Homo sapiens: one gene and its partners. The protein of the gene in region 2 interacts with the protein of the main gene of each other region in a pairwise test. Each region holds a gene or a part of one and is shown on either strand. Other genes may lie near its edges.

What was found.
Region 1: the proteins of RBBP7 (region 2) and H4C12 interact in binary tests that used the Homo sapiens proteins (3 or more experiments, as listed by UniProt).
Region 3: the proteins of RBBP7 (region 2) and H4C14 interact in binary tests that used the Homo sapiens proteins (3 or more experiments, as listed by UniProt).

The regions. Positions count from the first base shown.
Region 1 is NC_000006.12:27,830,511-27,832,690, reverse strand, and holds H4C12 (histone H4), read left to right. Parts: upstream 1-1,130; 5' UTR 1,131-1,163; coding exon 1,164-1,475; 3' UTR 1,476-1,517; downstream 1,518-2,180. UniProt on the Homo sapiens protein: Core component of nucleosome. Nucleosomes wrap and compact DNA into chromatin, limiting DNA accessibility to the cellular machineries which require DNA as a template.
Region 2 is NC_000023.11:16,856,806-16,860,468, reverse strand, and holds part of RBBP7 (histone-binding protein RBBP7), read left to right. Parts: intron 1-1,619; coding exon 1,620-1,793; intron 1,794-2,759; coding exon 2,760-2,875; intron 2,876-3,663. UniProt on the Homo sapiens protein: Core histone-binding subunit that may target chromatin remodeling factors, histone acetyltransferases and histone deacetylases to their histone substrates in a manner that is regulated by nucleosomal DNA.
Region 3 is NC_000001.11:149,831,148-149,833,575, forward strand, and holds H4C14 (histone H4), read left to right. Parts: upstream 1-1,509; 5' UTR 1,510-1,537; coding exon 1,538-1,849; 3' UTR 1,850-1,905; downstream 1,906-2,428. UniProt on the Homo sapiens protein: Core component of nucleosome. Nucleosomes wrap and compact DNA into chromatin, limiting DNA accessibility to the cellular machineries which require DNA as a template.

The DNA of each region.
Region 1 (2,180 bases), on a different chromosome or scaffold from region 2:
GAGGCGGGCGGATCACGATGTCAAGAGATCAAGAGCATCCTGTCCAACATGGTGAAACTTGTTCTTTACTAAAAATACAAAAAATTAGCTGGGCGTGGTGGCGCATGCCTGTAGTCCGCGCTAATCCGGAGGTTGAGGCATGAGAATCGCTTGAACCCGGGAGGTGGAGGTTGCAGTGAGCCGAGATTGCACCACTGCCCTCCGGCCTGACGACAGAGCGAGACTCCTTCCAAAAAAAAAAAAAAACCCCACACACAAAACCTACAAACACCAATTTTCTAGTTATAAGAGCTTGTTTTAAGGATTTTAATTCTATTCCAATTAAGTCCTAAAGCTAATGCAATTATCAAAATCTCGAAGAGATTTTATTCAAACTTCACAAAAGGTCTCTAAAGTTGTCCAGAAACCTTGGTGAAACAGATTAGGAAATTTGGAAAGGAAATAATGCGGAGACCCGTAGTACCAAATCATGAGACCTCTAATACAATTTTAAATATTAATGTAATAAAATTTAAATTTTGGTGTAATAAAATCATAAATTTCAATATTGGTCCCAAGTATAGAGAAAAAGTACATTTATGTTGAATGTGGAAAACATTATTTTTAAAATACAGCCGATTAAAAAATTGCTGGGGAACTGATTATAACTATTGATAATTCCTAAGAAACATAGACACCAAAACATCACTTTTATCTCTTTAATAGAAATTGGTTAAATTATAATCAATATAAGGAGGTTACAAAACTCCATATACAACACTGTATACATTTTCTTGGAAAAATATGTGCAACTGCTCTGCAAAATACATGATTAACTAGCCTGTGTGATGGGATAACATTGTAGTTTCTTAATTTCTTGTCCTTTCTTGTATTTCCCACAGTATTGATGTATATCTTCTGCGTTCAAAAGCAATTTTTTAAAGCCTCATAACGTGGTAACAAAATACTATGCACGTTACAAAATTCAGAACACGGAAACAAGAAGCTCGCTTTTTTTTTCCCCCTATTTCGGTTTGGCCCTTTAGATTTCCCCTCCCCCACCGGGGCGGGACTTCCCGCCGACTTCTTTCAGGTTCTCAGTTCGGTCCGCCAACTGTCGTATAAAGGCGCTGCCTCAGGCCAGAGTCCTCACAAAGCGTTGGGTGAGACTCCTCTTGCTCGTCATGTCTGGCCGCGGCAAAGGCGGGAAGGGTCTTGGCAAAGGCGGCGCTAAGCGCCACCGTAAAGTACTGCGCGACAATATCCAGGGCATCACCAAGCCGGCCATCCGGCGCCTTGCTCGCCGCGGCGGCGTGAAGCGCATCTCCGGCCTCATCTACGAGGAGACTCGCGGGGTGCTGAAGGTGTTCCTGGAGAACGTGATCCGGGACGCCGTGACCTATACAGAGCACGCCAAGCGCAAGACGGTCACCGCCATGGATGTGGTCTACGCGCTCAAGCGCCAGGGCCGCACCCTCTACGGTTTCGGTGGTTGAGCGTCCCTTTCTATCAACAAAAGGCCCTTTTTAGGGCCCCCACTTTCTCAGCTGAGGAGCCGTGATGCTTGTTTGCCCAGTTTCTCTTTACCATTTGTTCGCGCCTGCTGAGTTTGTGCTGCTATCGGAGCATGCGTCTCTAGTCGCTGTAAGTAGGCATCAGTCACTAATCGCTCTCCAGTAAATAAAATACCCAACACAACTTGTTTCAGGTGCTCCAGAGCTTACTGACATGGGCCGTCGCGCAGACTGTAGTGCAGTGTCATCATGGCTCACTGTAGCCTCCCGATTAGCCGGAACCTCGCGCCCACCACCACGCAAGGCTAATTATTTTTCCAAAGACCGGGTCTCCGTGTGTTTCCCAGGCTAGTTTCGATATCCTGGCCTCAATCCCCTCGCCTATGCCTAATGTTGGTATTACAGTAGTGAGCCACCACGCCTGGCCACGATACTGTTGAGGTTTTAGGGTTAGTTACATTTAAGGGGCAATTTTCGCAGTGTAGTGGGGAGGAAAGTCAAGCAGTTATAGGTTTCTGGCGCTGTGAATCCAACTGCTGAACATAGCAAGAACTTATTATGCAACAACCTTTAATCAGTGGACCGTAAATAAGTTTAGTTTATCGGTTTTGGCCCAATTCTTGAGAAAGGTGAGAATTTGAATCCTTGAGTAGAAATACGTAGCTTATCAGTACAACAAAGTGATCA
Region 2 (3,663 bases):
GATCCGCACGCCTTGGCCTCCCAAAGTGCCGGGATTACAGGCATGAGCCACCACGCCCGGCCAATATTGAGTTACATTTTTTAATGGATATTATCATTAAGACAGTGACTTTTCAAAATTTTAAGTTTGAGAAAACAAAACTCTGTGTTCAAAGTAAATCCTACTTGGAAGCCCCGCCCCCCCCCCTTTTTTTTTTAAAGGAGAGCTCTTCAGGTTGTTTTAGCTAAAGGAATCAGGAAACTTGAGTATCTTTGTAGCAGAAGGGTTAGAGCCACTGGAGTCCATGGAATGGGATGTTGAAGGTCAAAGTGGAGCAGATTTGGAGCAGTCTCAGGAGGGAGGAGACGATTGGATCAGGAGGGGTCTTAGCATGCCGAGGCACATTTCTTCCATTGACACCATGGAACAGAAGGTGCTACGAGGAAAAAGGATCCTTTTGCATGTGGTCACATGAGAGTAGTGGGTAGAGGAGCTTTGGAGTAATCGTGGATTTGAGATACGGTTTTTTCAACCACACTGAAATAGTAAGCTATGTTTGCTTCAGAGAGGAACGGCTAGATACTGATATTAAGACATGGAAGCGAGTGTTCATTAAGCATTCCACATAGAAGGAGCTGCCTGGAACTGAGAAATGGTTTGCTCCTTTTGGTGGTTGCTCCAGGCCCCGGTCTATTTTACTTCTTACCTGTCTGGCTCCAGTAGGCATTTGTGTTAGTTGTCCCTGACCTGAGACACAGGGTGAGCTAAAATGGAATGTGCAAAGAAAAGGCAATATAGGTCAGGAAGAATAACACAATTGTAATGTGAACCCTCCTATCTTTTTAAGCGTCAGCAACTAATTCAGGTTTTTTTATCTATGAGCACAAAAAAGAATGTTCTTGTTTGCTGTATTTGCTTAGATGTTCTCTACTTGTATTCTTTCTGCTAACATGTTGCTACTTCTTGGAAGTTACCGTACTTTTTATATGACTTTGTTACTTTACAAGGCCTTTTTCATGATTATTTAATACTATAGTCTTATTCACACACCAGATGGGCGGAGAGGTTAACCTTGGCACTGCACTAGCAGTTAAACCAAGTATGCTGGCAGGGCCAATGTATGTGTGTTTAGGGACAGGTAGGGGTTAGCGTGGGTTTCTGATTGATTTGAGGATGCTTCTGACTTCAGACTCAAAGGGTGTTCATACTGTGGAGGGTTAAAACCTTTCCTGTTTTGATGAATCCTAAAATAAGATGCTAATTCAGTGCAGTACTTACAGTGAGTTGTATTTGAACTAAAAAGCTATTGGTCTGCTTATTATATGGTTACTTGAAATTTCAGTGAATAACTATATCATCTTCATAACTGAAAGAGGACAGTTGTTTTAGATCCAAGGTGGAACTGAATTAAGTTGCATAAGGCAGCTACCAATATTTTCCAGTGCAAATGGGCTTTAAGAATAAATTGATGTGGCAAATGAACCCACATTTTTGGGTTTTCTCTATGCATGTTTCTGTCTTTGTCTTGTCAGTTTGTGTTGTATTCTGCCAGGTCAAAATCTGTTAGGTTGATTGAACTAAGTGATTTGTGAATTTTAATCCTGAGTGTGTGTGTGTGTGTTTCTTTCTCCTCACATTAGAATTTGGTGGCTTTGGTTCTGTAACAGGAAAAATTGAATGTGAAATTAAAATCAATCACGAAGGAGAAGTAAACCGTGCTCGTTACATGCCGCAGAATCCTCACATCATTGCTACAAAAACACCATCTTCTGATGTGTTGGTTTTTGACTATACAAAACACCCTGCTAAACCAGGTATGTAATAATAGAGTTAGGTCATTACTTGAGCAGTTTTCTTGATTCAAACTGGTAATGTTTTTAAGGTCAAAGTAGCATACTTTATAATATTTAAAGGTTTAAAAATTGCTTTGGGGGTCCCATAACCATCCTCAAGTTCAGGGATTTGCCAGAACTACCTAAAAGCAGCTTATACTAACAGCTAAAGTTTATTACAGCAAAGAATCCAGAGCAAGAGTAGGAAGAAAAAGATACACATCAGGGGAAGTCCAGAGGGGTTAGCTACAGGCGTCTGAGTCCTTCCCATCCAGGGCCACGTGGGACATGTTTTGTCTCTAGCAGCAAACCATAGGAACATGTGCTAAATGTCTCTACCCAGGGCAGCCCATTTGAGTTTCAGAATCTGGGATTTTTGTGGAGGTCTGTTGGCGTGGGCACATCCTGTTCTATGACCAGCCATGGTAACAAAATTGAGGACCCCAATAGTGAAGCCAAATACATTGTGAATCTTGCTAAACAATCCTACAAGTCTTGACAGGTCCCTATGGCATACCCCACTGCTCTGGGCTTACAAAACTTTATCAGTCAGTGACGTGAAGAACTTTCTGAGGGTCACATTCCCAGGGGTTGGCCAAGGGTCATTTATGGTTGCAGGCTACCCTAGAGGCATGCAAGGACTGAGCAACCAGACCTGTTGTGTTAGAAATATTTCTAAAAAATTGGGGGGTTGCGGGGATACGGTCACCACTGCCCAAATTTGTAGGATAGCTATAGTTTTTAATATTTTTGTGTTGGGGATAGTATTAGGTTTTCCAAAGAAACCAATCATCTAATGGTCATGAGGCTCAATTTGCATTGGGTATTAAAGACCAGATCTCGTTCGTGTGCAGTTGCTGTAATGGTTCACTCAATGAAGGAGTGAGAATTTATTCTCACCAGTTCTGATAAACAGAGAATAACTTAATGTTTTTCATCTTTTCTTAGACCCAAGTGGAGAATGTAATCCTGATCTCAGATTAAGAGGTCACCAGAAGGAAGGCTATGGTCTCTCCTGGAATTCAAATTTGAGTGGACATCTCCTAAGTGCATCTGATGACCATGTGAGAAACGTATTCTTTGTAATTTGTTCATATAGTGAGAGCTGACGTGTCACAGCTGTGCTGAAGGAGTACTATATAGATGAAAGGTTTTCTAAGATAATACTGCTGATTATTGTGGTAACATTCCCCCAGGACTTTAGAGAGATGGTTTTCATACTGCCCTGTATGAGTCTTCGGATTCCACAGAGCTCTTTTGAAGTAGCCTTAGAATGGAGGGAGCATAGGCAAAAGGCCTCCCATTATTTAAAAGAGGACCCTCCAGGCCCTTAAAATGGAAACTGTAGAGTGTTTGTGGGACCTGATTAATATAAAGTATTTTTTAAGTGTACAGTTCAGTGGGTTTTAGTATATTCACAAAGGTGCACAACTATTGCCACTAATTCTAGAATGTTTTCATTCGCTCTCTGAAAGAGAAATTCCATACCCATTAAGCAGTGACTCCCCACTCATTCCCTGCCTTCCCCCAGCTCCTGGTAAGCACTAATTTATTTTCTGTCTCTATAGAGTTATCTGTTCTTGGTATTTCATGTAAATGGAATCTCATATATGGCCTTTTCTGTTTGGCTTCTTTCACTTAGCATAATGTTTTCAAGTAACATTACTTATGTTCCATTCCTTTTTATGGATGAACAATATTCCACTGTATGGATATACCACAGTTAGCTTATTTGTCAGTTGATGAACCATTTGAGTTCTTTCTACTTTGGGGCTATTTTGAATTATGTTACAAGCATTTGTTTACAAGTTTTTGTGTAGATGTATGTTTTTATTTCTCTTGGATATATACC
Region 3 (2,428 bases), on a different chromosome or scaffold from region 2:
TTTAAACATTTTGATTTCGGGAGATTTTGAGTTTTGGGCTTAAAATGACTGAAGAACCACCAGGTGGATCTACGTGTCTCGAGTCCAGAAGTCTGAATACAGATTTACGATTTATGAGCACACAGAAGGTGGATCCAAGGGAGAGATTAAACAGGGCACAGAAGAGTTTTTAAAAATAATATTTTTCGGGAAAAAAACCCCAACAAAACACGATTCTTTCAGCAGAAACCAGAAGATTTTCTCATAGACTCTCCTACAGAGAGCCCTGATAAAGTAATAAACATGCTAACAGTAAGAACCCCAACCAATTTCATAGGGCAGTTTGCGGTAACTACTCCCAGTATGGAGCAGACAGTCCTCTTGCAAAACCCGATTTAGCAAACTTTGCTAGCTCCATGTGGGGCCTCCAAAGGACACAGCTGGGCACTAAATCCTGGCTGAAAACAAAGGCCGATTTAGAGGATCCGTAGAAACGGATGCACAGAATATCCCTCAGTCTTCTCTATGTAGCAGGCCCTCCATATACGCGGGTTCCCCAAGACCGAAAATATTAAACAAATGAATTTCTTTTTTAAAAAAAAGTACAACAAAAGATAGTAAAAATAAAAACAGTATAACAATTACTTACATAGCATTTACACTGGATTAGGTGTTACGAAGTAATTTAGAGACTATTTAAAGTACACGGGAGGATGTGCATAGTTATGTGCAAATACTACGCCACTTTCTATGAGAGACTTGAGCAACCTGGATTTTGGTATCGGCGGGGGCCCTGGACCAATCCCCTCTCAGTTCTACCGAGGGAGAACTGTTTTGTTTCTTCCAGCACGGCTTTGACCGACAGTGTGTTGGGATTCGCTGACGTCCATGAGAAAGCTTGGCAGCATGCTGAGACCAATTTTCCCAGGGCCAGAATTCTCCTGTGTGAGCTAAAATACAGTGGCTCGGTCCAACAAAACAGAGCCTGGAGCCAGGAATTATGGCGAACCTGCTCCCTCCCGTCCTCCCTTGGCGCACAGATCCCTGGCGCCGCCGCTCTTGAGGTCGCCTCTCGCGTGTCGACCTCATCGTCGGAACGGCGCTTCCTGAAGCTTTATATAAGCACGGCTCTGAATCCGCTCGTCGGGATTAAATCCTGCGCTGGCGCGCTCCTGCCAGTCTCTGGCCTCCATTTGCTCTTCCTGAGGCTCCCTCCAGAGACCTTTCCCTTAGCCTCAGTGCAATGCCTTCCGGGCGTCCTCAGACCAGACACAGGCCAAAGCCACTACAGAATCCGGAAGCCCCGGTTGGGATCTGAATTCTCCCGGGGACTGTGGCGTAGCGGTTAAAAAAAAAAAAGAGTGAGAGGGACCTGAGCAGAGTGGAGGAGGAGGGAGAGGAAAACAGAAAAGAAATGACGAAATGTCGAGAGGGCGGGGACAATTGAGAACGCTTCCCGCCGGCGCGCTTTCGGTTTTCAATCTGGTCCGATACTCTTGTATATCAGGGGAAGACGGTGCTCGCCTTGACAGAAGCTGTCTATCGGGCTCCAGCGGTCATGTCCGGCAGAGGAAAGGGCGGAAAAGGCTTAGGCAAAGGGGGCGCTAAGCGCCACCGCAAGGTCTTGAGAGACAACATTCAGGGCATCACCAAGCCTGCCATTCGGCGTCTAGCTCGGCGTGGCGGCGTTAAGCGGATCTCTGGCCTCATTTACGAGGAGACCCGCGGTGTGCTGAAGGTGTTCCTGGAGAATGTGATTCGGGACGCAGTCACCTACACCGAGCACGCCAAGCGCAAGACCGTCACAGCCATGGATGTGGTGTACGCGCTCAAGCGCCAGGGGCGCACCCTGTACGGCTTCGGAGGCTAGGCCGCCGCTCCAGCTTTGCACGTTTCGATCCCAAAGGCCCTTTTTAGGGCCGACCACTTGCTCATCTGAGGAGTTGGACACTTGACTGCGTAAAGTGCAACAGTAACGATGTTGGAAGGTAACTTTGGCAGTGGGGCGACAATCGGATCTGAAGTTAACGGAAAGCTACCGCGGCCCATAGCGCTCACAGCCGTAAAGACTTAAGTCGTTGACCGAAAGCGGCTTTTTCACTTACCTGGGCTTTTTTTTTTTTTTTTTTTTTTTTTAAAGCCTTTATCGGTATGAAAGGTTGAATGCTCTAGGTTTGAGCACTGCTTTCTCGGCTTGCTCTTCTGGTGCAGTATAGGCACACCTAGAGGGCCACGTCAGTCTTTGCGATCACCAAATCTGGTTCTGAGAAATAGGCACTGGCAATTTACACATGCCTTGCTGTGTAATCTCACTATATTTGCTCAGGCAAAGTGGGAGAAGCAGCCTTAGGTTTTCATTCTAGAGATGCCGGCTTTCCCACCTGATCGGCTTAGAGTTCACGATTGACTGTTTTGGGCTTCATTTCACCCTCTACATAACAAGCGGGTG